Linked DNA regions of Homo sapiens. Each later gene encodes a partner of the first gene's protein in a complex. Each region holds a gene or a part of one and is shown in the gene's direction. Other genes may lie near its edges. The genes, in order: RAD1 and HUS1.

Region 1 (15,706 bases):
CGCCATTGCACTCCAGCCTGGGCAACAAGAGCGAAACTCCGTCTCACAAATAAAATATAATAAAATAAAAAATTTACAAAGTGCTTTCAACACAGCCATTAATGCATTTGATTCTCAAAACCTCAACATTTTAATATACTCTTTTTTGAAGTGACAGATCAGGGGTTGGTTCTTCCATGGCTTCATTAACTGATGACTGAGTAAACTTCAGTGAGATGCCTTCCTTTCTACCAGTCTACTCCTACTTTACCATCCACAACCGATGCTCTTGAAGTGTTGAATGCTTTTACAAATAATATGACCTAATAAATGTCTGAATTTCAGCTTTGCTAAACCAAAAATTCCAACCCAAGAGAACAGGCTACATTAAGTGTGCTACATTTTTAGCAACACAAACTTCAAAAAGAAATCAGAAATTAACTGATGAATTCTGGTGATATTTTATTTAGAAAAAGATAATCACTGATTTTAAGATCTTAATTTTTCTTTCTTGTAAATGCTACACTAATTAGACGTAAGATAGTATTAGATAATAAAAGTATTTACACATTGAATACAAAATAAATATAAAGTAACTGAAAAACAAATCAGGTTTCCATTGACTTATTTTGTTTTCCCACTGTCCATCCTCTGTTTCATTTTTCTTTGCCTTTTGTAAATCCGTTTCTTTCTTGCTTTCAAATCAACTTTTGGCTCTGGTTTTACCCACTGTATTTCTATTGGTTTCTCCTCAGCTGGTGTTACAAAAACATCTGCAGTGGGATCATGTGGAAGAAGAGTCTTCGGCTCTTTCTTTCTCAGTTTTTGCACATCTTTCACTTGCTGTTTCTCTCTGTATTTTGCAGCTGTGATGGATCTTATGACACGCCGATGCTAAAAAAAAAAAAAAAAGATTAGATGCTTTTGAAATAAAAATAAACATTTTATATAAGGCAAAGACTTTCAGTTATGAACCATATATCCTTTCAGCCAGTGTCATGAAAAAAGGGAGTAATTTCCAAGTTTCTATGCAGCAAAAACCAAATTCAGTTTCACAGGTAATAAAACAGCAATTACTTCACAGAATCATTTTGGCCAAAGGGTTCTGGTACATTGAAGACTACTGAATGACACAACCGCTTACCATGTTTGGTGACTGGTAGTGAGGATTTTCATATAAAGTTGGTCCTCCAAAACTTCCCTGGAAAATCTTTATGAGATTTAAGACAAAACGAGGTCCTATTTCTACAAGAGCAGCATCTTCTTCTATGATCTTTAATAAAAAGGAAACATTTCATTTTGGTTTGGTTACGTTATTCCCAAAAGGTATACTGGCTATAACCTCATTATAAATGTGCCTGAAATAATTGATAATCCATAAAATCAAGGTGGGGGTGAAACTTGGTAAATGGCAAATCATCAATATTTTCTGAAATCTATTAGTACTTATAGGAAGTTGTCATGGAAAAATGTTTTTTCAGTGAGTTCTTTTAAAATTGAGTAATTAGATTTTGGTTCACATCTTGCTTGTCACAATGCATATATCCTTGAAAAACTGGTTAAACAGGATTTTAAAACAGTAACCACTATTAACAAAATGTATTAAAGCACATTATGGGGGAACTCTTGAAACTTAAATCAATCCCTAAATTGTTTTTATAAATCTAATTCAAGTTAGATTAAAAGGATATGTAGTCAAATTTATTTAATAGCTACTGATTATGGAATTAAAAGGCAACTTCCGAACAACAAATATTTATGTTATCTATTAGTTCAGGCATGTCTACCCTCAGAGGTTAGGATGATGTGTTCAACTCACATGCCAGGTATCCAATATAAAATATGCAGAAAAGAGCTCAGTTTATGTCATATACTGTCTAAAATTTTGTTCTTGCTGTTCTCTTCCACCTCTTCATCTTTCTGCACTTATCGTGCCAAACTCCTGCTTCAAGATTTCTAGAGTCACCTCCTCTTTTCTCCTGAATGAGTCACTGTGTGACTCATCATCTAACCGCTGCCATTGAATGCCTTCTAGAGCAATTACATTTTGCTAGGTCTTAACCTTTGAGGTGCTTTGAGAGAGAAACTTCTAAGCTTTGAGAGAGAAACTTCTATTTTACTGTATCCTTTACAGCACTTTCTACAAATTAGGAACCCAAGTATCTCATGGATCTTCAAGTTATTCCCTTTCTATAAAGTTAAATATATAATGGCTTATTAGGAAATCCATACTCTGTATCAACTAACAGTCATGAATAGAAGTAGGTAGAGCTCACTTAAGATATAAGACAGTACATAGTTACTTGCAGCAATCTCTTTAGGGAAAAGGAAGCTATTTAAAACAAAAGAATTATTTGCATTTTTTGTGTATGCAAACCCTGTATATCCTTATCTAAAAGTTTAACTAAAAATTGACCAGGCACAGTGGCTCACAACTGCAATCCCACCTACTCAAGATGCTGAGGAGGAATGATTTGAGGCCAGGAGGTTCAAGGCCAACCTAGGCAACACTGCGACACTCTATCTCTAAAAAAAAAAATTAGGCCGGGTGTAGTGGCTCACGCCTGGAATCCCAGCACTTTGGGAGGCCAAGGCGGGCAGATGGCCTGAGGTCAGGAGTTTGAGACCAGCCTGGCCAACATGGCGAAACCCCGTCTCTACTAAAACTACAAAAATTAGCCAGGCGTGATGATGGGTGCTTGTAATCCCAGCTACTCAGGAGACTGAGGGAGCAGAAGCTTGAACCCGGGAGGTGGAGGTTGCAGTGAGCCAAGATTGTGCCACTGCAGTCCAGCCTGGGCAACAAGAGCGAGACTCTGTCTCAAAACATAAATAAATAAACTCAATTAAAAAAAAGGTATAATTAAAAATCAAGTAAAGCTTACCTGAAAGTTCCGAAACCATATCCTATTATCCAAAATGGTGAAAGTAAACACGTGGTCCACAAATGGTTGGCTTTTGGGATGATACCGTGGTGTACTAAAGATCTAGTTAAAAAAGTGTATGTTAGTTCCTTATTCCAAGATATATCATGTATATTTTGGATAGCTAATTTTAAAGATATTTACCTGAATTAAGAGTTCTTTTAACAAAGCATAATGTGGTAATTCATCAAAAGCCTATAAAAATAAGGTAAGCATATTATTTAACAGTAGACTGCCTTGTTTAAAACTGTTTGCTCATTTGTTTCTATAACTTGGCTATAACCTCATTATAAATGTACCTGAAAGAATTGATAATCCATAAAACCAAGGTGGGGGTGAAACTAAATTGAATAACACAACTATATCTACTAAAAACAACCATGCCAGATAAGAAAATTAGACCTCATACACTGAATGAGAAACTTACAGGGTCAAAAGACAAAAGGGGCCGAGAACCTTTCAAACAGTTTCCAGTCATCTTCAGTTCAGCGAGGGTATGAACTAGAAAAATTACAACAAAAACAAAAATAGTTGTAACTTTTGCACAACTATTTCAAAAGATTACTTTTAATTTCCTCATCTAAAAAAATTTATTGAGTCAACTTACTATTTTGAACAAGGAATTTAGCAGATGGTCCGTGAGGTGAATTTGAAAGCCTGAAAGATATGGAGTAAGCTTTTTCAACTAATTAGCAAATGTAGTCAATGCTTACCACCTATTCACCATAAATAATATGCTTATAATATTTATACATTTAATTTTCTTTAAAGGTATCAAGTTTCGTGAAATCAAAAGTTTGCTTCATTCTCAACCCTTAACATGAAACACTAGGAGTCTATAACATAAAAGGTACAAAGAACAAATCCACTTAAATGAGTTTAACCAAAATCTTAATACATTCTCTTACCACATATAGAGATCCTGTTTTTTCTTAGCTTCAAAATAGATGCATTTATTACAGTTCTTCATTTCACAAACCTAAAGGAAGCAAAGTATAGGAAAATGAAGTAGATAATATAAATGAGAACTAAAGTAATTATATGTGATTAATATCATCCAGATTATCTCAAAAATACCTAACCAGGCTAATAGGCTACAAAGGCCTAAACATGTATTTATTCACAGAAGGAACCTTTAAAGTTCCTCTTAGGTATTCTACCCAAGGTAAACTAGATGCTCTGCCCATATCTTGGGTGAAATTATCTATCATATTTTTGGGCCTAGCATCTAAAATGGTCTCACTTCTGATTACTGGAAACCTCCCTCCTTTTTTTTTTTTTTTTTTTTGCGATGCAGTTTCGCTCTTGTTGCCCAGGCTGGAGTGCAATGGCACGATCTCGGCTCGCCGCAACCTCCACCTCCCAGGTTCAAATGATTCTCCTGCTTCAGCCTCCGGAGTAGCCGGGATATTACAGGCCTGTGCCATCACACCCCGCTAATTTTGTATTTTTAGTAGAGATGGGGTTTCTCCATGTTGGTCTGGCTGGTCTTGAACTCCCAACCTCAGGTGATCTGCCTGCCTCAGCCTCCCAAAGTGGTGGGATTACAGGTGTGAGCCACCTCACCTGGCCAGGAACCTCTTCTGCCCATAGTCCCATTGACAAACTACAAAGACTAAAAATAGATGCCCTACGGATAAAGCATACCACAACTAATCTTCTTATGTTAATCCTTCATAATCAATCTTCTTAGCCAATCTTATGAAAATGCAGTACTTATAGAACTAAAAACATCCTTTTTAATGATTATTTTGATTTTTAACTTTTTAGCTTTTTGATTCTAAGATCACAAAACTTAAGTTGTTCTTCATTTATACTATCATTTCTGGTGATTTGGTTCTATAAAATCACTAAGGGATTGGGTGAAAAGCCTAAGTATATCAAACCTATTTCAAATTAAACTTCAATGTCTTGAAGGCTTACAAAAGTCACACTTGAGAAGACACAAAAACATTACAGGAGTGAAGGCTTGTATTACTGTAGTATTCATAAACTCTAATTAATATAGTACTCTTAAACTCCACATTATTTAAGACTTTAAACCTAACAACTTATGGCTGGATGAGGTGGCTCATGCCTATAACCCCAGCACTTTGGGAGGCCGAGGTAGGTGAATTGTCTGAGCAACCTGGCAAAGCTCCATCTCTACTAAAAATACAAAAAATTAGCTGGGCATACTGGCGTGTGCCTGTCGTCCCAGCTACTCGGGAGGCTGAGGCAGGAGAATTGCTTAAACCCAGGAAGCAGAGGCTGCAGTGAGCTGAGATCATACCACTTCACTCCAGCCTGGGTAACAGAGAGAGACTTTTGTCTCCAAAACCAGTTAAACAAATAAACAAACCCTAACAACTTAAAAAAAAAAAACAAAACTTTTGTTTCTTACTGGTCTTAGAATAAACACAAAAATAGGAAGTTTGTGCCACTTCTGGGCTTTTGTAGTTGCCATTTTCTCTAGCTAGATGGTCTTTTACCATATTTCTCCTTCACTACGTCTCTGCTCAAATATTAAACACCATCCCTTTGAACAGGTTTTTCCGGTGTAGCCTCAGCTGTCCAAAACCTATAACCTGCTTTATTTCTCCTGTCTTTACTTGAAATTATAAACCTTGTTTATGGCCTGTCTCCATTAGAATGTAAGTTCCATAATGACAGGGACATTGCTCTGTTGAACAGTTTCTACAGCACATAGAATAATGTGGTATTACAGCAGAGGTTCAAAAATTTGTGCTCTAAAGAAGGCTAATAGTGAAAAAATGATCCTAATTCTTCTAAGTTTTGAAAATTTTGCTTTAAAATGTAAATTTATGTTCTGTGCTTCCAGAGGTTAAAAAAAATACCTAAGTGTAGTATCTTAAACAATACTTTGAAAATGTAACCTATTCAGTTTGTAATACCTTAATAGCCAGTTCCACACAAATCACTTTTAATACTGGCAAAACACTTTTTACCATGTGGGTTTTATATATATATATGTTTAATGGACTTATTTTACTTTATATATGTTGACTGATAATTTTTTGAGTACCTACTATGGATTTAGCATAATACTAGACACTACAGGGTTAAAAAATGGGACATAATCCTTCTCCTGAGGAAATTTCAATATGCTTGTTCAGACAAAACAAACAGAAATGAATGAAGCACTAAACTGTGAGAGATAAAAATTTGGAAGACCAGTTATTGAAGAGTTAATAAAATGTGTCTGAATAGTTTTTACAAAATAATTTTTAAAGTCACTGAATGACTTAGTTTTGAAATAAGCCACTGTTAACATTTTAAAAATATTTTGTTGCAATTACTTTCCAAAATTACCTCGTTAATCACAAATAGCTTATCCTTACGATCCATTTTAGTATCTAGAAAAAGAAAAAAAAGAAAAAGCAAGTAAATTAAAGGTGATTTCAAAGTTATTTCAATCAAACCACATATGCTATCCAGAAAATAAAGTGTTTTTACACTCTTCAGTTTAAAGGAGATTTTATTACTAATTTTCAAAACAAGAGCTGGAAACAATCGCTCAAAAATCTTGACTCTTTGTAAATGTAAAGAAAATAAGTAAAATATAGTCTGTAAGAATTAGAAATTATAGTGTAAGCAGTGTTTCTCAATATTTAGGTATTCTAGGAATCCTTTTCAAAAATGGGAAAATTCTCACAAACCAAAGACTGTGTTAAAGGAAACCAGTTTCAATGAAAATATCTTTCACTTTTTAATCTTAGGTGTCAAAGAAAACTGACTTTATGCCCGTGTAACAAACCTGCACATATACTCCTTGAATCTAAAATAAGTTAAAATTTTAAAAATAAAAAACAAAAAACAAAAAAACCCCAAAGCACCTCTCAACATAAGCACAACAACAGCCATATGATGGCGCTGCCACTCCACTGTTCCAAACTTTTTTTTTTTTTTTTTTTTTTTTTTGAGACAGGGTCTTGCTCCTTGCCCAGGCTGAAATGTAGTGGCGCAATCACGGCTCATGACAGCCTTGAACTCCTGGGCTCAAGCCATCCTCCTGCTTGAGACTCCTGAGTAGCTGGGACTGCAGGCAAGTGACCCCCTCACTTGGCTAATTTACTTTACTTTTTTCATTTTTTTTTTTTTTTATTTTGTAGAGACAGGGTTTCACCATGTTGCCCAGGATGGTCTGGAACTCCTGGACTCAAGTGTTCCACCCACCTCGGCCTCCCAAAGTGCTGGGATTACAGGCATGAGCTACCATGCCCGGCCATACTGTTCTTGCCTGTAAAATAACCCACTGCTTAAAAATAAATAAATAACCTGGCATTTAGAAATAGGCTCTGACTCCAACTTAAAAAGTGCTTTGAATTCTATCCCAGGTCCATTTTTCAATAAAAACAGTTAAAAAAAAAAAAAAAAAGGCCCAAAAAGCAACATGTGGCAGTCCTTAGCACTTAGGACAAACCATCCCACCTATCTCAGGACCTTCAGAAGCATTACAGTGAAGGCATTCCTGGACCTTCAAGAAATGTTTCAATAATATTAGGACACCTGTTTTAAAAAGTAAAGAATCTACCTAATGAAATCTAAAGAATTTCTTACGAAATGTTAACTGGAAAAATTGTGGCACTTGAAAGGATAAAAGGCATTGTGTTTTTTTCGTGAGAACACTGAACAAATGAAGAATATATAAAATAAGTGAAAACATAAAAATAGGTAAGTTTATAGATAGAAATTTCTAAAGTATATGATATAAAGGCACCTGCTTTAGAATGAGGCATCAACATTCTCAAGTCCTGCATTAAATGTCTTGTTCTAAAATTTATTCCTCTGGAAGAAAAGATGAGAATCCGTTCCTTATTTTTCCACTTTCCCTAAAGAAAAAGAAAATGTTAAAAGATTTTAAAATCTTATACTGAACTGATCTTGTTTTGTGACAGGGTCTCACACTGTTGCCCAGGCTGAAGTGCTCACGGCTCACTGCAGTTTCAAGTTCCTGGGCTCAAGTAAGTGATCCTCCCACCCCAGCATCTACAGTAGCTGGAGACTACAGGCATGTGCCACCATGTCCAGCTAGTTTTTTTTTTTTTTTTTTTTGTAGAGATGGGAGTCTCCCTATGTTGCCCAGGCTGGTCTCCAACACCTGGGCTCAAGTGGCTTGGCCTCCCAAAGCGCTGGGATTATAGGTAAGAACCACCGCACCTGGCCCTGTTTGTTTTTTATGAGCTTCCAAGTAGCTCATAACCAAGTCAAACCATCCTGACTCCTTTAATTTCATCTCTCACCAACATTCACTGACCACATCTGCCACCCAGAAATGCCCTCCTTGGTTTCTTTGTTTTTCAACTTCAATCTCTCCAATTCCTCCTTCCAACCCTAAAAGTTCTTTCTTAGCCCTCTTATTTCTGTGCTCTCCATGACAGATGTCTCATAATAATTTCCCACAACTCTTAATCCTTTCTTATTCACACTGCACTTACTTAGAGTCTTATATTAACTGCAAAACTCCTAAATGGCTAACCTTCCCAGACATGAGCACCTCCAATAGATATGGTTGACTAGCTTTTTCAACAGTTTACTTTTTTTGTTTGTTTGTTTGAGATGGAGTCTCACTCTGTCACCCAGGCTGGAGTGCAGTGGCGCGATCTCGGCTCACTGCAACCTCCACCTCCCGGGTTCAAGCGATTCTCCTGCCTCAGACTCCCGAGTAGCTGGGATTACAGGTGCCCGCCACTGCACCTGGCTGATTTTTTTTTTTTTGTAGTGTTAGTAGAGACGGGGTTTCACCATCTTGGCCAGGCTGGTCTTGAACTCCTGACCTAGTGATCCACCCGCCTCGGCCTCCCAAAGTGCTGGGATTACAGGCGTGAGCCACCACGCTGGACCATTTTTAAAGTAATACTTCCATCACATCCTTACTTCCCAGAGTTTTCTAAACAAAGTTCAAATGACATAGCTTTGACACTGAATTTTAAAATAGATTTTCACGTCTACATCATTATTGCCCCAAATGAAGCCTAATGCAATCCAATCTGGCTCTATTTTTTACATTTTTCAGCATTTCCCTACTTCAAAGTCTTTCATCGGTTTTTTTTTCTCCCTTGGAGTGTTCCCTCTCATTTTTTGAATGTCAAAATTCTACACTTCCTCTGATATGCAGCTTACGGGCTAAATCCTTCATGATTCTTTATCTTATTATACTAGGGTAAAAATAATCTATATCTCCTGCACTTCCATAGAATGTATCGAAGTATGGCTCAGATTATAGATACTACCTAGCTCAAGGGAAGAGTGAGAACACTAACATTTACTGGAAGTGTACAAGTCCAGCTTATTTTTCATAAAAAGTAAATATTCCCTCCCCCTGCCCCCCAATCTGCAGGTCAGAAAAGAGCACAGAATGTTGCTGTTAATAACGGGGCTAGAATTTACACTTATCTTTCATTCCACAGAGCTCACTTCTTTCTTAGAGCTTGCCATCACACCACACGGGGTCATTTACTTATCACCTACTCCGCGCTAGAGTACTATGCTAAGTGCGGAGGACGCAAAAATTAATGTCAAAGATAATCCTTGTTCACAGTATTCTGTCTAGCTTAAGAAGAGTTCTTAGTTGAATGAAAGCTAATTCTAACAACTTGTGTGCACTTCTTTTGAATAAAAACCATCAACTTATTTGAATTCTTAAGTTTCCTCCTAAACTCCAACATTTCAGGAGGAAGAGGTCACATTCTAGTCATCTTTGCAATCTCAAACCCAAAGGAAGCCTAACTTGGTACAGTGCATGGCACATTCAATGTCTGTTGAATACAAGTAAAGCTCATACTACCTAGTCTATTTTTCAGTATCTCTTGAGTTAATGACCTGGTTAACAAGTCAGAGTCACAGTCCCAAGGGCAACAACTTTTTAAAGGCTCCCCTAACGTACTTCAGGATCCCTGACTGAGAGTGGCTGACTATGGCAGTATATGGGCATACTAATCACTGGAGAAATAATAGCGAGAAATAACCAAGGAAAAGCACTACTCTCCAAAAACATTAAAAAAAAAAAACAACTGAACAACTAGTAAGAAAGAACGCTGGATCTGAGCACCCTGTAAGTCGCTTCCCCGTGGGCCGGGTAAAGGTTTTAAAACCCGCCGCCTCCAGGAAGACGGCCACGTGCACAAGGATTAGCTGCAAACTCCGTGCCCAGTCTGGCCGGGAGAATTGCTAAAACCGACCTACCGTTAACACCCGGGCTACTCTGAAATTAAGCAAGGCTGTAGTCAAGTAAGTAACCCAAGAAAAGGCGCACAGAGCCGCCGCCGCAGGTGTAGCCCGGGGACATCCCCTCCTACCTTGCAAACGGGGCCTGGGATCCGGTCCCTCTCTTCTTCCTCCACCTCCTCTGCTGTGGCGTGCCGCTTAGCTGGCGGCTCCGCATCTATTTCGTTTCTTTTTGGCTTCTTCGCCTGAACTGCAAAGCCTCCACGCCGTTTCCTCTTGGTTGCCGCCATCTTGCCTCGCCGCCCGCGCTCTTGGCCTCCTTTCCGGCGCTGCCGCTCGCTCCTATTTCCGATCTCTATGGTTCGGCGGCTCTAAGCGCTCAGCTCCGCGGTCGTCCTCCAGGTCTGTGCCGCCTCCTTCCGGTCTCGGTGGCGCGGCACGCGCGGCTCTCTAGGCCTCCTTCAGCTCTGTGGTGACGGTGGCCGAGGTGGAGGGCCGGTCTGAAGAGTGGCGGGACTGGCTTCACTTCCTCCGCGGTTCCTCGGAGCCGCCTCGCTCCTCTTCAGGGACTTTGCTGAGAAGGGCTCTCGGGCGTCCAGACCCCACCGCAAAGGTAGGGTTTCCGCACTCGGGGACCCCGAGACTAGTAAGCGATGCTGTCCCGCGGGCGGGCTGGTGAATGGGGTTGTCTGGGACTCTTGGAGGATTATCTGGACACTCCGGGCCCGCCCCGCCATCGCCTGTTTTGTTGGAGGCGGGGCTGGTGGCGCGGGCTGCACAAAACCGACTCCCCGCGGATTTGTAGCTCCTGTTTGGCCGGGAGATACCGTGTCAGTTGCGTGTCTTCATTCTTCACAACTTTTCACGTTATTGTCCTCTTACGGAGACGAGGAAACCGTAGCTTAGATAATTTTCCTCCAGAATTACAAAGATAGTTAAGTGACATAGGTGGGGTTCGGCCTGGTCAGCCGTGTTCAGCCTCCCAGCCCCTTTCCACCTCTCAGCGCAGGTGGAGCTCGCCGGACCTCGCCAGCACTGATGGGAGTTTTACTGTCTAATCCCTTCAGGTGTTTGGCGATCCGCCGAGAAGTTGTTGGCCCCAGGAGCATCCCTCGGGGCCGAATGCGCAGTGGACGATGCCCCTTCTGACCCAACAGATCCAAGACGAGGATGATCAGTACAGCCTTGTGGCCAGCCTTGACAACGTTAGGAATCTCTCCACTATCTTGAAAGCTATTCATTTCCGAGAACATGCCACGTGTTTCGCAACTAAAAATGGTATCAAAGTAACAGTGGAAAATGCAAAGTGTGTGCAAGCAAATGCTTTTATTCAGGTATGGAAGTAGGCGCCTTTAAGCCTGTGCCATAGATACTCTAAATGTAATTTAATGAAATCGGAAGGTTTCAGTAGACAAAATAACTTAATAGTCATAATAACTTGTCAATAGTCATAATAAATAACTTAATAAATAAATAATAGTCTTAAGTTAGAGAACAAAACGTCATTACTTGAATTTTTTTTCTCTCCCGGTAACAAATTCTTTTCCCATCTTGTTTTACAGAGATAATGGTTAGTAATGACTAAAGTTTATTAAACTAGGCTATTGGCTAGGCTACAGTCTTCTTATTGTTTAACTTATTTAATCTTAACAATAGTCCTGTAAGGTAGGTTCTGTTATTATTCCCGTTTTATATATGTGGAAACGAGGCACAATTTTAAGTGATTTGCCAACAGTCCCACAGCTGGTAAGTGGCTGAATTGGGATAAGAACGCTGAATATTTGTTTCCAGAATATATGCTCTTTTTTCCACTGCGATATGCTATTACTAAAGAGTATTTTTTTCCTTTACTGGTTGTAATAGAATTTTTGTTCTTCCAAAGTAATATTTGTGTGGTTCAGATAGGATTGCAAGTTCAACTAAGCGTTTTTTAACACGTAAGTGCACAGCATGATCTCAGGGATAGAGAGGTAAATAAGACACGGTTCTTGTCCTCATGCAGGGGCATGGTATGGTGGCTCACACCTGTATTTCCAGCTGCTCAGGAGACCGAGGCTGAAGCACGAAGATCGCTTGAGCTCAGGCATTAAAGACCAGCCTGGGTAATCATAGTGAGACCCCCGTATCAATAAAAAATCATAATAAAAGTTGAAACTAATGTTGCTCATGCATTATCAAGTCATTCGTCTATTTTCCAAGTGACCTTAGCAGTAGTGATAGGCACAAAAACGAGACAAGGGAGAGTCACAGAGGGATAGTTTTAGATCCAGGAATGGAGATAAGGATGCTTCAAAGGATGTCTCTAAGATGTTTTGATTGCTAATCAGAAATTATTCTCATGGGATTAGCACAGTATTGTATTTTTTAAACGTATAAAGTGAAATCTAGGACCTTATATTATTAGTTTTTATTCTTTTATGTAACAATTTTCATTTTTACTCTTTTCATAGGCTGGAATATTTCAGGAGTTTAAAGTTCAGGAAGAGTCTGTTACTTTTCGAATTAATTTAACTGTCCTTTTAGACTGTTTATCTATTTTTGGATCAAGTCCTATGCCAGGTAAACTATGATCAGTATAAAGACATAAAAGTGTTATACATAGTGGTCAGAAAAATACAGGAAGTTATTTGGAACATAAACATTGGTTCAGAAAGCTAATGCCAATTCATTTTTCAGTGGCCACAGTCATGGGTTCTAACATTTCACAATGTTAATTGCAAGTGTGTTTATAATTCTTTTCATATTTGTAAAAGTATTTGCATTTTTTTTTTAATTTACAAGGCTTTGAGGGATTGTAAATTCGAACTGGCCAAAAGAATACTTTGGACATGTCTTAAATATTTTTAGCATTGTGAAATGTTTTAATTGCTTCTTTTTCCTAACTTGTCCAGAATTACTCCGCTAGTTAGTGGCAGAGAAAAACAAAAGCCAGTTCTGACTCCTAGTTTACTATGTTCAAAATTTGTTTCTTTTAAGCCATATTTTATAAGTTATGTCTATTTTGCCAAATGATTTTGTGGTGTTTTTGAGACAGAGTTTCTCTCTTGTTGCCCAAGCTGCAGTACAATGGCACAGTCTCAGCTCACTGCAACCTCTGCCTCCCGGGTTCAAGTGATTCTTCTGCCTCAGCCTCCCGAGTAGCTGGGATTACAGGCACGTGCCACCACGCCCGGCTAATTTTTTGTATTTTTAGTAGAGATGGGGTTTCACCATATTAGCCAGGCTGGTCTCAAACTCCTGACCTCAGGTGATCTGCCCGCCTCAGTCTCTCTAAGTTCTGGGATTACAGGCATAAGCCACCGCAACCGGTTGCCGAATGATTTTCTTTAAAATATATATTTTTTTATTTGTTAAGGGAATTTTTAAGAATGGTGAAATTGAATTGCTGTGGGTATAAAACTAAGGAATCCCCAGAAGAATGATTTTATTTCATAGGAAAGCAACCTGGAGATTAGCTAGGAAAAATTCAATATAGTTCTCCAGAAAAATGTATTTTACGTTTCCACAGACAATTCCACTATTATTAATTATACATTTTCTAATACAGTGTTCTCCAGCTAGTTTTTCACAGAAGCATCTGTCATCTTCCATTCCTCACTGTGGCTCTCAATCCAGTAAGGAGAAGGAGTTTGAATATCCTGTCATATTCCTCCTTCCCTCTAGTGGTTTGCAGAGTTAAAATTTACACCACCATTAACAACCCTCTTTTTCTCTCAATTTGATTTTTAAATTCGAGGAAATATAAAGAATATCTCCCAGTTGGAAAAGTTGGAAGGATCCTTGTCATAGTGAGTACACTGACGTTACAGTACAGATGACAGCAATCCACTGTTACACACATTGAACCTTCAAGGAATAGCATACCCTGTTCTGCAGCAATTTAGTTACTTGCTGTGTTGATCCATATAGATTCTCTACCCTGAAATTGTACATATATAAAATCAACAAGCTATTTCTGAGGTGTGTATGACAACCTGAAAATGATTCCAAAGAATTATGTTACATTTTGTTCTGGTTCCCAATTTTCTTGTAGTTTTGGAATTCTCTACACACAACTGTCATCAGGGAAGATGTCATCCCTTTTTATGAGGAGATACATATATGTGAGAAATTGGGCGGAATAAATTATTCTTGAGAAATTTTATGTATCATTTCGAGGAGAAGCTGAACCCAGAACTATAAAGCTAAGGCCAAGTATGACTTCTTTCCATTGCAGGGACTTTAACTGCACTTCGAATGTGTTACCAAGGTTATGGTTACCCTTTGATGCTGTTCCTGGAAGAAGGAGGAGTGGTGACAGTCTGCAAAATCAATACACAGGAACCTGAGGAGACCCTGGACTTTGATTTCTGCAGCACCAATGTTATTAATAAAATTATTCTGCAGTCAGAGGGGCTCCGTGAAGCATTTTCTGAATTGGATATGACGAGTGAAGTCCTACAAATTACCATGTCTCCTGACAAGCCTTATTTCAGGTACTTGAGAGCAGTGCAGTTATAGTTAATGTGGTCTGTACTCCATCTTCCCACTTAGACATTTGCTTAGGATGCAAAATTTTTATTATCCACATTTTTAGAGTTTTCACAACTTTAGACAGCTTGTACTCTTACCTCATAATTTTATGGATCAAGAAACTTAAGACCCAGGAAGATTAACTCACTATTTCATATTTAGGTGGTGGTGGCATCTAGATGAGAAGCCCAGTCCTCTAATTTATAAACTGGTGGTGTTTTCATTGTACTACTCCTTACTTTCATAGATCAGGTTACATCATGAGGAAAATTGGGTTTAAGTGTTTGGAAAGGGTGTTTGTATTATGGTATCTTTTTCAAGTTAGTTCAGGATGCAGAAGAAGATGTTTTCTACACGTGGCTCATTCATTCACTAAGTATCTGTTGATCACCTACCGTGTGCTTATTCATCTTATTAAGCATTGTGGGAAGAACAGCTTAAAACCAAGGTGAAGCCAAGAAAATGTGAAACAGCAAACCATTAAGTACCAAGATAGCACACACAGATACCTGGGAAATGCTGTATAAGGATTTAGGGAGGATTGCTCAAGGCTGGCTTCCCAAGGGAGGGCAGTTTTCAGCAGGAGTACAATGTCAAAAAAGCTGTTCTTGATAGTTTAACACAAGTCTCTTTTCAGGATTAGACTCAGAGATTCTAGCAATTTAGAGAGAGGATCTAAATATTCTCTTTTTGAAATATTTCAGAATATTAAAGCCCCTAAATACATATGGAATAAAAGGAATAAGGTATTCTTTTTGTAACTACTTTAGAAGAATTACAGGCCCGGCTGTAAAAGTGCTGTGGCAGACACCTGTAATCCCAGCACTTTGGGAGGCCGAAGTGGGCAGATCACTTGAGGTCAGGAGTTCAAGACCAGCCTGGCCAATGTGGTGAAACCCTGTCTCTACTAAAAATAGAAAAATTAGTTGGGCGTGGTGGCACGTGCCTATAATCCCAGCTACTTGGGAGGCTGAGGTGGGAGAATCACTTGAACCCAGGAAGTGGAGGTTGCGGTGAGCTGAGATTGCGCCACTGCACTCCAGCCTGGGTGACAGAGTGAGAATCTGTCTCAAAAAAAAAAAAAGAAAAGAAAAAGAATCACAGGCCCTTGTCATGACTTTGGG
Region 2 (15,287 bases), on another chromosome or scaffold:
TCAACTGTTAGCTTATAAATCCCCTGAAACTCACCAAGGCAAATGAAATATATCCTCATTTTTTAAATTAGCCACAGGGAGTAACTGAAGAGATGTAGAAGACATTTTATATCATGTAAAAACAAGTGTTTTATGACACTTTTTGGCCAAATAGTGAGAAAATAAAGGTAAAACAATACATATATGTTAGAAATGAGCATATTTGTAGAGCTTCATATTTGATTATGTATTCATATGCATTTGGGCTCATATTATCTGTTCTTATAGTTGGCTTCATAGTTCTGGTTTTTAGACAACAAGCCCTCTTGCCCCTGCTCCTCGGCACAGCCAGCAAGGAGTGTAGAGGGGGGAAACAGCGGAATAGAGAGGTCACTTGGCCGCCATATTATCCTCCTCTCCCTCTACTTATCTTTTCATAAGCTCTTTATTCCAGTAGCTTATTTTCTCATTCATTAGACTGATATTTGAAAATAGTTATGTTAGAAAAGAAAAAGTATATAGGCCAGGCGTGGTGGCTTACACCTGTAATCCCATCACTTTTGGAGGCCTAGGCAGGTAAATCATTTGAGCCCTGGAGTTCAAGACCAGCCTGGGCAACATGGCAAAACCCTGTCTCTACAAAAAATTAATAAATTAGCTAGGTGCGGTGGCGTGTGCCTGTAGTTCCAGCTACTCGGGGGTCTGAGCTGGGAGGATGACTTGAGCCCAGGAGGTAGAGGTGGCAATGAGCCATGATCATGCCACTGCATTCCAGCCTGTGTGACAGAGCCAGATCCTATCTCGAAAAAAAAAAAGTATATAATTTAAAATTATATCAGTATTCATTGGGATTCTTTGAGATGAATTTCGTTATAAGGCATTGATTTTCTTTTCTTTATTTTCAGCATGCAGTTTCTGAATATTTATTATGTGTGAAACTTAATATCTTTAGCAACTGGGGACACCCGAAGTATACTTGTTTATATCGATTCAGGGTCCATGGCACACCAGGCAAGCACATCTAGAAGAGTTGGTACAGAAGGCCATGCCACATGTCCAGAATATTCAAGAATGCTTATTCTCTTAGATGATACCGCACCCATAGGAATTGAGAATTGGGAGTGGGAAGAAAACCTCAAAGTGGTTCATACTTGCCTGTAAAAAGTAAATGCATTTTACTAATAAAAAAATATGGAAGTAAATTAAATATCCTTGCCATAGTTTAGTCTTTAAGGATGCTTCATGTTGTTAGAGCATTGAAAACTCATTTTGTATTTAGAAGAAGATAGTCTCATCATCAGTCTTTCCCATAATAGCATCTTTGCCTTCACGGACTCATTTATTTACACCAGGCATGGATGTCCACTATCACTACTATCATTTAGTGCTGATCTGGAGGCACTGGTCAGCGCAATTAGATAGGAAACCAGTAATTTTTAAATTGGAGGTAAAAATTAGTGAGGAGTTCTGACCATGACCATTTGCAGATAATTTGATGAATTCCTTGAAATGCAATAGAGTCTATTTTAAAAGAATTAGAAACAAGGAAAAACTGTTGTAAGTTCGTGGATGCAAAATTCCCATATATAAATCAATATCATTCATAAAAACAACAGGGTATAACTTACAAAATCCATTATTATCTTTAGATAATAAACATCAAATAAAAGAAGAAAGTAAAATATCTATGTGAAAAAAATCCCAAACAGCAGTGAATGACTAAAAGAAGACTTAAGGCCAGGCACAGTGGCTCACAACTGTAATCTTAGCACTTTGGGAGGCCAAGGGTTGGGGGATCACTTGAGCCCAGGAGTTTGAGACCAGTCTGGGCAACACAGCAAGACCCCATCCCTACAAAAAATTTAAAAATTAGCCAGACGTCTTGGCACATGCCTGTAGTTGCAGCTACTCAGGAGACAGGTGGGAGGATCACTTGAGCCCGGGAGGTTGAAGCTTCAAGTGAGCTGTGTTCGAGCCACTACGCTCCAGCCTGGGCGACCCTGTCTGGAGAAAAAAAAAAAAAGAAGACTTCAGTAAAATAAATGGAAAAATAGATGTACCATATACTGTATCCTTCAATGGGAAAACTCAACTGTCAAGATGTCAGTTCTAAGTTAATTTATAAATGTAACTTGATCTCAGTTAAAAAGCAGAAAAATATGGACTTTATGGGACAGTTATGAGATATTAAAGAATTATCGTTAAAAAAAATAATTTGGGCTGGGCACGGTGGCTCACACCTATAATCTCAGCACTTTGGGAGGCCAAGGTAGAAGGACTGCTTGACTCCAGGAGTTCAAGATGAGCCTGGGTGACATAGTGAGACCCTGTCTCTATTAAAAATAAAAAAATTAGCTGGGCATGGCAGTGCACACCTGCAGTTCCAGCTACTTGGAAGGCTGAGGTGGGAGGATCACTTGAGCCCAAGAATTTGAGGCTGCAGTGAGCCATGATCACTGTGCTCCTGCCTGGGCGGCAGAGCAAGACCCTGTCTGAAAAAAATAAATTATAGGTGTCTGTATGATAATGGTACTAAAATGATGATTTTAAAATAAATCTTTTTATTTACATATTTAAATATTTAAAGTTGAAATGATATATGTGGGATCTTTTCCATAATAACATAAGAGGAAGAAATGGATAAGAAAATTCATGAAAAAGATTGGCCATGAAATGATCATTGAAGTTGAATGCTGCCAGTCCATGGAGCTTCATTATATTATTCTGTCTAGATTTATATATGTTCGATATTTTCAATTAAAAAGTTTTTTAAAAATTAAGACATGTATATATTTTTAAAAACCCAAAGGGGGGTATGTTTTAAATAAAATTGATTCTAAAGTTCATATGGAAATATAAACTTAGCAAAAGGACAGCCAGAAAAATCTCTGAAAAAAAATCAACAAAAAGAAATAGCTCTATGACATAGGTATAAAACAATAGTTAAAACTGTATGATACTGGCAAACAGATAGACCAATGGAACAGACTGCCGAGACCAGCTTGGTCGGGGAGACCCTAACCCAGCGGCGCTAGAGGAATTAAAGACACACACACAGAAATATAGAGGTGTGAAGTGGGAAATCACGGGTCTCACAGCCTTCAGAGCTGAGAGCCCCGAACAGAGATTTATCCACATATTTATTAACAGCAAGCCAGTCATTAGCATTGTTTCTATAGATCTTAAGTTAACTAAAAGTATTCCTTATGGGGAACAAAGGGATGGGCTGAATTAAAGGAATAGGTTGGGCTAGTTAATGGCAGCAGGAGCATGTCCTTAAGGCACAGATAGCTCATGCTATTGTTTGTGGCTTAAGAATGCCTTTAAGCAGTTTTCCGCCCTGGGTGGGCCAGGTGTTCCTTGCCCTCATTCCGGTAAGCCCACCACCTTCCAGCGTGGGCGTTATGGCCATCATGAACATGTCACAGTGCTGCAGAGGTTTTGTTTATGGCCAGTTTTGGGGCCACTTTATGGCCAGATTTTGGGGGGCCTGTTCCCAACAACAGACAAGTCCAAAAATATATTTACATGTATGTGGAAGTTGGGTGTATGATAATGGTAGCATCTCAAAAGAGTATGGGGGAAAAAAACAAATGGCTTGGGACAATTATCCAGTCATTAAGAAAATAAAATTCCATCCATATTTCTCACTTTACAATATGACAAACTCCCAGTATGGTAAAATATATACAAGTAGGTAATAAAACCATAAAAATATTAACAAGGAAACTTGGGATAATTCCTGTATGGTATTGAATAGAGGAAGGTCTTCCTAAATATGACTCAAAATTTAGAAGCCACAAAAGAAAAAAAATTCCACTATATAAAAATCAAGAACCTCTGCATGGCCAACAAAACTTAAAATGCAAAAAATATTCACAACTGACATTATAAGGACCAATCTTTCCAATATATACACAGTCCCAAGAAAGCAATTATAATATCAATAACCCAATAGAAAAATGGCCAGTAAACAGATCATCTAGAGACGCACATGAAAGATATTCAAGCTTATTTACTTAAGAAAAATGGCAAAAATTATACTGTACCATGTTTCACTGATGAAATTAGAAAGATCCAAAAGTTTGATAATGTTTTATTCCAAGGCTTTGGGGAAACAGGATCTCTCACACGTTGCTGGAAGAAATGCAAATAGGTATAACATTTATGGAGGGAACTTGGCCTATCTATAAAAATCGAGATGAATATATCCTTTGACTAAAAAACTTACCATGTGCAAAATGCCGTATATAAAATGTTATTCATCAGTAATATTTCCCAGGAGGAAATAAGGGGGTGCAGAAGGGTAGGGATGAACCTCTCCTTCCTTTGCCACTTTAGCTTTAGCTGGTAAATAAACATGCTCTGTAACCTCTTCTGTTACTTCACTATACTCTCCTTCCTTTTCCACTATGAAGCGTTCCTACCTCTCTGCCTGCCTTTGAGTCTCTGCTGAAATGCAAGTGATAATGGCTGACTCTGAATAAATAGGCTTTGCCTGTTCCATTTGGTTGGTCTTCATTTATTTCCACACTATCAATTGTTTTCCTGAAGGTCAAGTGTAAATAGAGCTGGTCCAGTCAGCAGGAGCATGTGGGTCACTGGACACTCAGCAATCCAGTGATGCAGATTCTCATCAAGAGTGTGAGGTAGGGCATGCCATGGCCAACATTGCCAATTCTATCTGTCCCCATCTTTAAAATGGGAATAATAGGCCGAGCATTGTGGCTCACACCTGTAATCCCAGCACTTTGGGAGGCTGAAGCAGGCAGCTCACCTGATGTCATGAGTTTGAGACCAGCCTGGCCAACACAGTGAAACCCCATCTCTACTAAAAATACAAAAAATGGTCTGGGTGTAGTGGCAGGTGCCTGTAATCCCAGCTACTCGGTAGACTGAGGCAAAAGAATCACTTGAACCCAGGACTCAGAGGTTGCAGTGAGTCGAGATTGCACCATTGCACTCCAGCTTGGGCAACAAGAGCAAGACTCCATCTAAAATAAAATAAAATAAAATAAAATGGGAATAATCATACTTATTTTACGTGTGTTTATATTATCTAAGTGATGATATCAGTGCAGAGTGCTATAAAATGAGAGCTATCTATCTCACCCTACTGATCAATAATATTTAAATAGTGCTTTAAAGGCATCCAATAAATGTTGATCACCCTCCTCTTGAGTAGGGGCTGGTCCCCTTCCTTAATCCCCATCACTCACCACCATGCCTGACACTTCTCATGTGCTCCACAAATCTTCATTTAGAAAAGTATCTATGGAATTTATTGAAGAATTTTTTTGACACCTAAAAGAGGAGAAGAGTCTTTGAAGAGCTGCTTAAGCAAAAACCCATCTCTTAGAACAAGTACAGTTGTCAAAAGACATTCACTCATGCCACCTCTAGGGTATGCTTTCCTTCATTTTACAGTTTTCTCATGTTAAAAAAAGAAGACAAATACTGCCTTTCAAATTTGATGCGTAACATGTGAGCTAGTCACGTTGTTTCCCTTGGGTAATTTTTCCAACATTAACTGCTAACAACAGGGCTGCAAATTGCTGTCTCTTCCCCCAGGGACTAGAGAAGATGAGTAAGTACCTGAAAGAGACTGGCCAAATACTTACCTAGACAGAGTTTACCATCTGCAGCTGTAGAGAGGTTATTTCCCTTACTTCCAACTATATGCATCCTGAATGACATTTTATTTGCACCACTGTTTATTTCAGTTTCTAAGACAAGATTAAGGCATTTACCTCCCCACTAAACAAACTTAATGAACAGCGTGAACACTGTTTCCCAAATCATTGTGTGACTGAATTACTAATCCCTGACATTTGGCAGTTCTTAAGTCAGAAGGCAATTTACTGTAGCTAGATGAGAACATGAATATACATTGCATTAGAAAACTCAGTGGTACATGGGGCTTCTAGAAATCTCTAGAGATCACATTCCTTGCCTCAAAATCATTTGGAAAGTAGAGAAGTAGTGTCAATATACTTAATTGTCAATTCTGAAGTTAATGAATTAATTTGCTAAACCTGTTTAAGAAAATTGCAAGAGCACATAAAAGATTCCTTTCTTCTTCCAAGAAAAGATAATTGCAGCTTTATTTTCTATTTCTTGAGTCAAATTCCTATATTATTTGGGCTTTTGTCCATGCAGAATGTATCATATCACATCTTCTTAGGAAGTTTAAAAAATTGCTTTATCAGTTTTTATGACATAAAATTAAGCAATTTACACTAAAGATCAAGATGTTACAAAACATTGTTTACAAAGTTTATTTAGATACATTCTTTAATTATATTCATTTATCTACTAGCAGCCACTTTATTTAATGTGATGCTCAACTCTTCAAAACTCATTCATGAGGAAATTAAAAAACAGGCTTTTTCCTGCAGATCATATGGGGCAAATAAAAAATGTTGGCATGGCCGGGCTCAGTGGCTCACGCTTGTAATCCCAGCACTTTGGGAGGCCGAGGCGGGCGGATCACGAGGTCAGGAGATCGAGACCATCCTGGCTAACACGGTGAAACCCCGTCTCTACTAAAAATACAAAAAATTAGCCGGGCGTGGTGGCGGGCGCCTGTAGTCCCAGCTACTCGGGAGGCTGAGGTAGGAGAATGGCGTGAACCCGGGAGGCGGAACTTGCAGTGAGCCGAGATTGCGCCACTGCACTCCAGCCTGGGCGACAGAGCGAGATTCCGTCTCCAAAAAAAAAAAGAGTTATGCCAACATTTTTTTTTTTTTTTGAGACGGAGTCTCGCTCTGTCGCCCAGGCTGGAGTGCAGTGGCAGACCTCTGTTCACTGAAATCTCCGCCTCCTGGGTTCAAGTGATTCTCCTGCCTCAGATTCCTGAGTAGTTGGGATTACAGGCACAAGCTATCACGCCGGGCTAATTTTTGTATTTTTAGTAGAGACGGGGTTTCATCATGTTGGCCAGGCTGATCTCAGACTCCTGACCTCAGATGATCCACCCGCCTCGGCCTCCCAGAATGCTGGGATTACAGGAGAGAGCCATCCTGCCCTGCCTGTTGGCATAACTTTGAAAGTGATCTATTAAGTTTGGTTTGGCAAACACTCGCATATGACAATGAAGATTAGAATTTTGCTTCATGTTATAGTCTTAAAATAGGCAAAAACTGCAATTTTTGTATTTTGCACCTTTTTATTATTATTACACTTTAAGTTCTAGGGTACATGTGCACAACGTGCAGATTTGTTACATAGGTATGCATGTGCCATGTTGGTGTGCTGCACCCATCAACTCATCATTTACATTAGGTATTTCTCCTAACGCTATCCCTCCCCCAGGCCTCCACCCCCCAACAGGCCCCAGTGTGTGATATTCCCCTCCCTGTGTCCATGTGTTCTCATTGTTCAACTCCCACTTATGAGTGAGAACATGCGGTGTTTGGTTTTCTGTCCTTGTGATATTTTGCTGAGAATGATGGTTTCCAGCTTCATCCATGTCCCTGCAAAGGACATGAACTCATCCTTTTTTATGGCTGCATAGTATTCCATGGTGTATATGTGCCACATTTTCCTTATCCAGTCTATTATTGATGGACATTTGGGATGGTTCCAAGTCTTTGCTATTGTGAATAGTGCCACAATAAACATATGTGTGCATGTGTCTTTGAAAATTATCTGGGCCTGGCGCGGTGGCTCACGCCTATAATCCCAGCACTTTGGGAGGCCGAGGTGGGCAGATCACCTGAGGTCAGGAGTTCGAGACCAGCCTGGCCAACATGGCGAAACCCCGTCTCTACTAATAATACAAAAATTAGCCGGGCATGGTAGCTTGTGCCTGTAATCCCAACTACTTGGGAAGCTGAGGCAGGAGAATCCCTCGAACCCGGGAGGTGGAGGTTGCAGTGGGCCAAGATCACGCCATTGCACTCCAGCCAGGGCGACAGAGCCAGACTCCGTCTCAAAATCATCATCATCATCATCTGCATTATCATTATCTTGATTCTATGTGTCAAGTTAAAGACAAGGTTCTAGTCTATTTGCAAAGGACATTAAAAATAACAATTGTTAACACAGATAATCTTTAGTCTTTGAAAAACCAAATTAGATACAATTGTTGCTTCATTTCCCCCTTTAAAATTTTTCCTTTAAAAAAAATCCTAATGACATTATTTATGCTAATAAGAATTTTATCGGATGTAATAAAGTTCGTCTTGAGGCAAACTGCAGAATTATCACTTAACGTCAGTGTTCTTTAAGCTTCCCGACTTTACCAACTAGCCAGTAATATGTTCAATTTTTTTAGAAGTCATTTGAAACAATTTTCAGAACCTTAATCCACCAAGATGCTTCAATACCAAAGTACCAGTACCGTCATCTGAGGCTGGAGGGTTTAAAGCTGCTCTACCTTAGGTATATTTAAGATAATATTGTTTAACCTTTATAAACGATTAATTTTATTTGGATATTTTAAAATAACACTTGAAATAGGTGTCACAAAATTCTTTCAAAACGTGAATTCTCAGAACAACCTCCCCGAATCTGGGGCTTGAAGCCTCCGCCTCACTAAAAGTAGATCCCACCATTACCCGGCAGCGCGGAGGCATACCCGGAGACTGGGACCCCCACCTCCCCCGGGGCGTGACCTGTGATCCTTGACCCGTGACCCCACCTCCTCTAGGGCGTGACCCCCTAGCCCCACCTCCTCCGGGGCGTGGCCCGGAGATAACCCTGGTAAGAGTCGCGTAGCCCGAGCCGGGCGGAACCACTGTTCGCGCTGCCGTGTTTCCGGGCGGGGACACTCAGGGCGCGACGCTTTTCTGTTACCCACAGAGGCCCGCCGCGGCTGCGCCATCCGCGGCCATGAAGTTTCGGGCCAAGATCGTGGACGGGGCCTGTCTGAACCACTTCACACGTGAGCAGGGAGGCCGGAGAGGAGCGAGGGAGGAACGGAAGGAAGCAGTGAGCGCGCGGTGGGGACCGCGCAGGAGGATCAGAACGGGGATGGGCGCCGGAAGGGGCCGCGGGAGGATGGGGCCGGGATGGGGGTGCTGGTGTAGGCCGCGGGAGGGTGGGGCCGGGAGGGCGCGGGGCGGGTCGGAGGGCACTTGTGGGGATGAAGGCGGCTTTCAAGGGACGTTTCTGAAACTTGATTCCGATCACGTGGCTTTAAAAAAAAGCGGCCACTGCTCCCATAGACGGCTTTATCAGGCATTGACATACCTTCAAGGCCCCATTCGTCCCTCCACCCTGACAGTGCCTAACCTTGCATTTAACTGTGTATTGCAGTACCTAGTAGTCAATAAATCCATGTTGAATGAATGAATGACTGGTAGGTGCCTGTTTTCTTATTTGAACACTGATGATGTGTGCTGTACATCTCCCCTAGTTTGTTGGGAGAATTGCGTGACATCAGGGGTATTAAAGTACTTTCCAGTGTGATACCAACGTTAAGTGGTTATTTTTCCACCGAGAAGTTGATGAACAAGAAATTCTGCAAAATAAGTTGGTCTCTAGGATACATAATGTGCATTTTAGTAATTCCTTATTTTAACCCCTGCTTTAGGAATCAGTAACATGATAGCCAAGCTTGCCAAAACCTGCACCCTCCGCATCAGCCCTGATAAGCTTAACTTCATCCTTTGTGACAAGCTGGCTAATGGAGGAGTGAGCATGTGGTGTGAGCTGGAACAGGTGAGCAAAAGCTTCTGAGAGGCCTGCACACTCTGCAGATTGTCACTGGAAAGATCACATATACCCTCCCTCATCCCTCATTTTTTTTCCCTTAGGAGAACTTCTTCAACGAATTTCAAATGGAGGGTGTCTCTGCAGAAAACAATGAGATTTATTTAGAGCTAACATCGGAAAACTTATCTCGAGCCTTGAAGACTGCCCAGAATGCCAGGGCTTTGAAAATCAAACTGACTAATAAACACTTTCCCTGCCTCACGGTCTCCGTGGAGCTGGTGAGTAGGAGAGTCAGGGTTTCTAACACAGAAGTCTTGGCCTCGAAGGAATAGACATAGTTAGCCTAGCCTTTTTAACAATAAATACTGTTGAAAGCTGTTTGGTTTATTTAAATTTAAAGATCTGGTCCATAACTATATTTTGCATTAGAGTCAGTTCCTCCTCATTTTAAAATTGTGTTGTTATCATATGCATTCAGCTAGAATGCTGCTTTTTCCAAGCCGTGAAACTTCCAGCCTCTCTGTTTCTTGTAGTGGTATTGTCACCTTGTCTAGAAATCATGGTTTCTCTATCCATTTTCACCTTTGACATGTTTTCTCCCCACTCCCACCCTGCCTCATCTGCTATAATAACCTTTAAATGGCCCCTCGTTCTTCAGTACACGTATGTTTTATATGCTACTGCCAGATGAATTTAGTGCACAGCTGTCCTCCAAACACACAAATACACAAACTCATGCGCATACATACAATCCAGAGTTGCTCTTCCTACTCATAGAATGAGGTTCGTATTTCCTTTTTTTTGAGACGGAGTCTCTCTATCACCCAGGCTGGAGTGCAGTGGCGCGATCTCGGCTCACTGCAACCTCCATCTCCCGGGTTCAAGCGATTCTCATGCCTCAGCCTCCTGAGTAGCTGGAATTACAGGCACCCACCACCACACCCAGCTAATTTTTGTATTTTTTTAGTAGAGTCGGGGTATCACCATATTGGCCAGGCTGGTCTCGAACTCCTGACGTCAAGTGATCCACCTACCTCGGCCTCCCAAAGTGCTGCGATTGTAGGCATGAGCCACGGCGCCCAGCCCAGCTTTTCTTCATAACTCTCAACTCTTTGCAGTCAGGCAGTTCTCAGAGCTAATTAGGGCATTTCATGTCACAGTATAAGTTTGGTATGTTTTTTCTATTGCTTAAGGAAAAGCAAGATAGTAACGTATAATACTTTTTGTCCAAAAGTGCAAGATATTTTGGTCTGTGAGTCTCATAGGAGCCCCTAGAAATAAATATAGTTTGCCTTTTAACTGTTAGAAACTGCAGCACTCTGAGTGTCCTATGCCCAAAGAATGGCCTTCTCTTGGTTGCGTCAACATAGCAGGCTTGCTTCTTTCTGCCTCACGGCTTTACATGTGCTGTTTCCCCAGCCTGAAACCCTGTCCCCTTGTTCTTGTCTTCCCATGGCTGCTGCTTCTCCTGCTTTTGGTGGTATCTGAAATGTCACCTCCTCAGTCTAAGGAAACTCCCCCACACTCACCCTGGTCTCTGTGGAGTGCTTTCTCACGGCTATAATGAGCATTTCATACAGTTTCATTTGTTTGCATTTTTATTGATCTGTTTGTTCCACTGGAACACTAAGGACCTTTTTGTCTTATCACCACACTTCCCAGTTCCTGGAAGTACCCAGAGTCTGTTCCATAAATATTGGCACCATCAATATTGGTCGAATGGCTTTTGAGTGAATAAACTGACAGCATTCCACTTAGATTTGGTATTTCAACTTTTTTGTCCCGGGTCTTCGGGTTTGTTTTGTTGTTGCTTAATATTAACAACATAAAAATATTTTTAAATTCTTTTCTTGGCAGTTATCTATGTCAAGCAGTAGCCGCATTGTGACCCATGACATCCCCATAAAGGTGATTCCTAGGAAATTGTGGAAGGACTTACAAGAACCGGTGGTCCCAGATCCTGATGTAGGTGATGCCTGCAGTCCTGCTGTACACCCCACATTAAATGGCATGACTTGAATTCTCTAGTTTTAGTTGTAGTCTTGCAGTATATTTTATTTTTAAAGGATACTTAACGAAAACATTAGATTATTTGCCTTTTGTTATTTACATAAAGCATCTTAAAAATGTTGCATATGATAGAAATGTCATGCCATCCTATATGTAGAAAATGTCTCGCTCAGTAACATCACTTAAAACACAAATGATACTTTTGGAGGACAATTAGTATTTATTAGTATTCTTGGCCTTAGACACCAATTTGGGTTTCACAGGACTTGATCTTTTCCTCAGCCGGTCAGGAGCGATATCTGGATGTGCACGAAAGCCAAGAAGAGAAGAATTTCATGGCTTAGGGCTAACATGGGGTAACGGTCATGCCGATGGTTAACCCTAGAGCTCCTGAAAGTAAAGATGATGCCAAAGGGCCCATTTCCTCTTGCTCACAATTTGTTTAAGAAGAAAGTACAGAAATATGCTGGGTAAAATAATTACTTGACTTTTACTAGATGGCACCTACACTGATTTTGAAAAAGCCTGTGTTTTATAGAGCACTCTTGGTAACAGTCTCAGATGTGATGCAGTGACTGTCTGCCATGTTTTTGTACAGAGCATGGAAAAGGCCCTTGAATCATAGGTGTAAATGTCCCTTAGAGGAGGGCCTCCTGCTGATTGCCTGAGTTATATTCCCCCTGGACCAATATAGGGGCATCTCAGCTGAAGTACCCTATTCCTTCTTGAGCCAAAAGAATGCCCACAGGGACATGGTTGCTGAGGTAACCAGAGGCAGGCATTCCATTCTTTAATTTTGCTTGAGCATCCTTGAGTTAGTGAAATAGAATTGGTTTTCTTTTTATATTTTTAAAAGAACTTTATTCAGAAAATTGTAAAATAGTATCCCATAGTTTTTGAGCATGCATGTGTTCTAGAGTTAGTTATGGGGCCCTTGTCATTACTAGAGTATATTAATATTTTTAATACTTGTGCTTTTTTCTCATTGGTTTTGTAGGTTAGTATTTATTTACCAGTCTTGAAGACTATGAAGAGTGTTGTGGAAAAAATGAAAAACATCAGCAATCACCTTGTAAGTCACAACTTCTTTAGAAAAGAACTCTGAAGTATTTGGTGGGACGGCGTGGGTTCTCCAGCTCACCCTGCAGCAGTCCATGCAGGTGGGCACCTCCTAACCGAGTTCCCACTTATGAGGACCTGGCCTGGTGCTGAGAACCTGCAGATTGCTAGTTGGATTTAGAAACCTATTCCAATACTTTTCAACTCTAATTCTTTGAGGAAAGCTTTTATATTTGCCTTTAATCTGCCTGTTTTTCCTCTTATATTTTGTATGAAACATTGTATCTTTCTTTTTTTTTTTTTTTTTTGAGACAGAGTCTCACTCTGTCGCCCAGGCTGGAGTGCAATGGCGCCATCTCACCTCACTGTAAGCTCCGCCTCCCGGGTTCATGCCATTCTCCCACCTCAGCCTCCCGAGTAGCTGGGACTACAGGCGCCTGCCACCATGCCTGGCTAATTTTTTGTTTCGTATTTTTAGTACAGACGGGGTTTCACCGTGTTAGCCAGGATGGTCTCGATCTCCTGACCTCGTGGTCCGCCCGCCTAGGCCTCCCAAAGTACTGGGATTACAGGCGTGAGCCACCGCGCCCGGCTGGAACATTGTATCTTTTACCTGCTAACGTGCCCGTATTTTTCTGTGAGTCACTGATATGACTGACAGTGAGTTTGGAGTTTCCTGTCTGCGTGCCAAGTGTCTTTCAGTGAGCCAGGGACAAAGATATGCCACACCATAGCAGCCTTTATTCCAAGCACACCTCACACCAAGCTAGGGGGCACTTTTATATTTCTGTTTATTTTCTGTTTATTTTGTGGAAGTCTCCTATGGCCACATGGCTCGAAATGTTACAGTGTGTGACAGTGGTGGGAAATGTGTAGGTTATCCTCATTCATACCTGGGGTTATTGTGAATTCTTCCTTCACTCACTGCCCCTCCCTCCTCCCCCTGCTCCCTCCTATCCTGCTCCAAAAAACACCCTTGGTTATGTCCCTGAATCTTCTAAAAACCACTGTCCACCTGATGAAGCATAAACTTTTGATCTTGACAGTGTACCAGGCCACCTTTATAGCCACATCTCTGTTGTATTGCCACACCCTCCCTGCAGAACGAGGCTGGGTTCTGGTATTCCCCCACAATGCCTCTTCTTTTTTGTTCAGTTTCTTTGCCATTTGACACATGGCTTCTTCTCTCCATCTCCCTGGAAGGCACTTAGCCATTCTCATGCTTCATCACAGACCTTTCCCCACCACCCCTCTGGAAGCTCCTCCATGGAGCTGAGCTGTCCAGTGTACATGGTAAATCACCTGCTAAGATCTCTGAAGGTCTCGTGAACCACCAGCTTCTTGATAAAGGAAACCCCATCTTAATCATCTTTGTGTCCCAGCTGCCCAGTGTGGGATTGCCACTCAGTAGGCAGCAATAAGTGTTGCATGGATCTGGAACAAAATTTAGCTTCAAGAGGTCTTTGAAATCACAAAAGTATTTTGAAGCCTAGAAAATGTACATTTGACTGTTTTTTTCTAGAGTTCTGCACACTAAGAGCAATGCTGTCATTGGACCTGGGTAACTCAAAGCTTTTCCTTCATAACTTAATCTATAAAATCTGTTTTCCATGAAGCAGTGTGCACTGTGCTGACGTTGGTGTCACCTGTGACTGCAGTGATGCTGATCCAGTTGTCAGGCTGGCTTCATCTGGGGATACCCTGGGGACTTCCAGAGAAATTCAGAGAGGCCCAGGAGAGAAAAGACAGGGCTGTTAATTGAAGGATGGCATTTGTTTGTTCTTTCTGTTCAATGAAAATGAGTCAGCAAGGTAGAGAGGTAGAAGGGTAGCTTAGAATCATCAGAGGTGTTTTGTTTTCTCTTTTTTGGAGTTTAAAAAAACATAGAAATATTGTGGAGAGGCTACTACGATCTGGAATTACTAAATGGAAAGTTATCAAGTTACTGTAGCAAAGTACATAATGAGGTCTTCCTGGGTATCCAGAATTCTGTATCTGAATATTACAGGCAGTAGAATTAAGGAAAATGGGTAGACTTAACACACTAAAAATGCCCACCTTCCCATTAGAGATGCCCAGTTACTTCCTTTCATTAAATGCGAGGTGTGACTGATGGGGTGGGTTGTATGTGACTCATGCAGGAGCAGAAAAAGAAGCAAGAACTGGAGGGAATTGACATCATGTTCTAAGACATTGCTTCTAAGTTCTACCATGCGTGTGAATCCCCTGGAATCTGGTTAAAGTGCAGGTTCTGATTTGGGAGGTCTGAGCTGGAGCCTGAGGCTCTGTTTCTGACCAGCTCCTGGGAGATGTCGATGCTGCCTGTCTTCAGACCACATCATGTAGCAGTACTTTGTGATGTGTGCCTGTATTACTCCGTTTTCACGCTGCTAAAAAGATATTACCTGAGACCAGGTAATTTATAAACAAAAGAGGTTTAATTGACTCACAGTCCTGTATAGCTGAGGAGGCCTCAGGAAACTTACAGTCATGACAGAAGGCAAAGGGGAAGCAAGGCACGTCTTAACATGGCAGCTGGAGAGAGAAGAACACAGGAAAAACTGCCATTTTTAAAACCA

The links.
Region 2: the proteins of RAD1 (region 1) and HUS1 are in contact, whole or in part, in a crystal structure (PDB 8GNN), measured with the Homo sapiens proteins. Residues at the interface, in NP_002844.1 of Homo sapiens: Asn85 (codon at 12,575), Val88 (codon at 12,584), Asp91 (codon at 12,593), Cys92 (codon at 12,596), Ser94 (codon at 12,602), Ile95 (codon at 12,605), Phe96 (codon at 12,608), Gly97 (codon at 12,611), Ser98 (codon at 12,614), Gly127, Val128, Val129, Thr130, Val131, Cys132, Lys133, Ile134, Asn135, Gln137; in NP_004498.1 of Homo sapiens: Thr165, Ser168, Val169, Lys172, Met173, Asn175, Ile176, Glu197, Leu198, Val199, Cys200, Val201, Thr202, Thr203, His204, Phe205, Lys206.

The regions. Positions count from the first base shown.
Region 1 is NC_000005.10:34,910,393-34,926,098, reverse strand, and holds the start of RAD1 (cell cycle checkpoint protein RAD1), read left to right. Parts: upstream 1-10,594; 5' UTR 10,595-10,683; intron 10,684-11,137; 5' UTR 11,138-11,206; coding exon 11,207-11,404; intron 11,405-12,520; coding exon 12,521-12,629; intron 12,630-14,286; coding exon 14,287-14,545; intron 14,546-15,706. Other genes in the region: BRIX1 (ribosome biogenesis protein BRX1 homolog), read right to left, coding at 604-873, 1,124-1,252, 2,865-2,966, 3,048-3,098, 3,331-3,404, 3,511-3,560, 3,812-3,882, 6,216-6,259 and 2 more. UniProt on the Homo sapiens protein: Component of the 9-1-1 cell-cycle checkpoint response complex that plays a major role in DNA repair. The 9-1-1 complex is recruited to DNA lesion upon damage by the RAD17-replication factor C (RFC) clamp loader complex.
Region 2 is NC_000007.14:47,973,047-47,988,333, reverse strand, and holds the start of HUS1 (checkpoint protein HUS1), read left to right. Parts: upstream 1-8,718; 5' UTR 8,719-8,814; coding exon 8,815-8,866; exon of another isoform or gene 8,867-8,924; intron 8,925-9,517; coding exon 9,518-9,645; intron 9,646-9,740; coding exon 9,741-9,917; intron 9,918-11,496; coding exon 11,497-11,604; intron 11,605-12,646; coding exon 12,647-12,721; intron 12,722-15,287. UniProt on the Homo sapiens protein: Component of the 9-1-1 cell-cycle checkpoint response complex that plays a major role in DNA repair. The 9-1-1 complex is recruited to DNA lesion upon damage by the RAD17-replication factor C (RFC) clamp loader complex.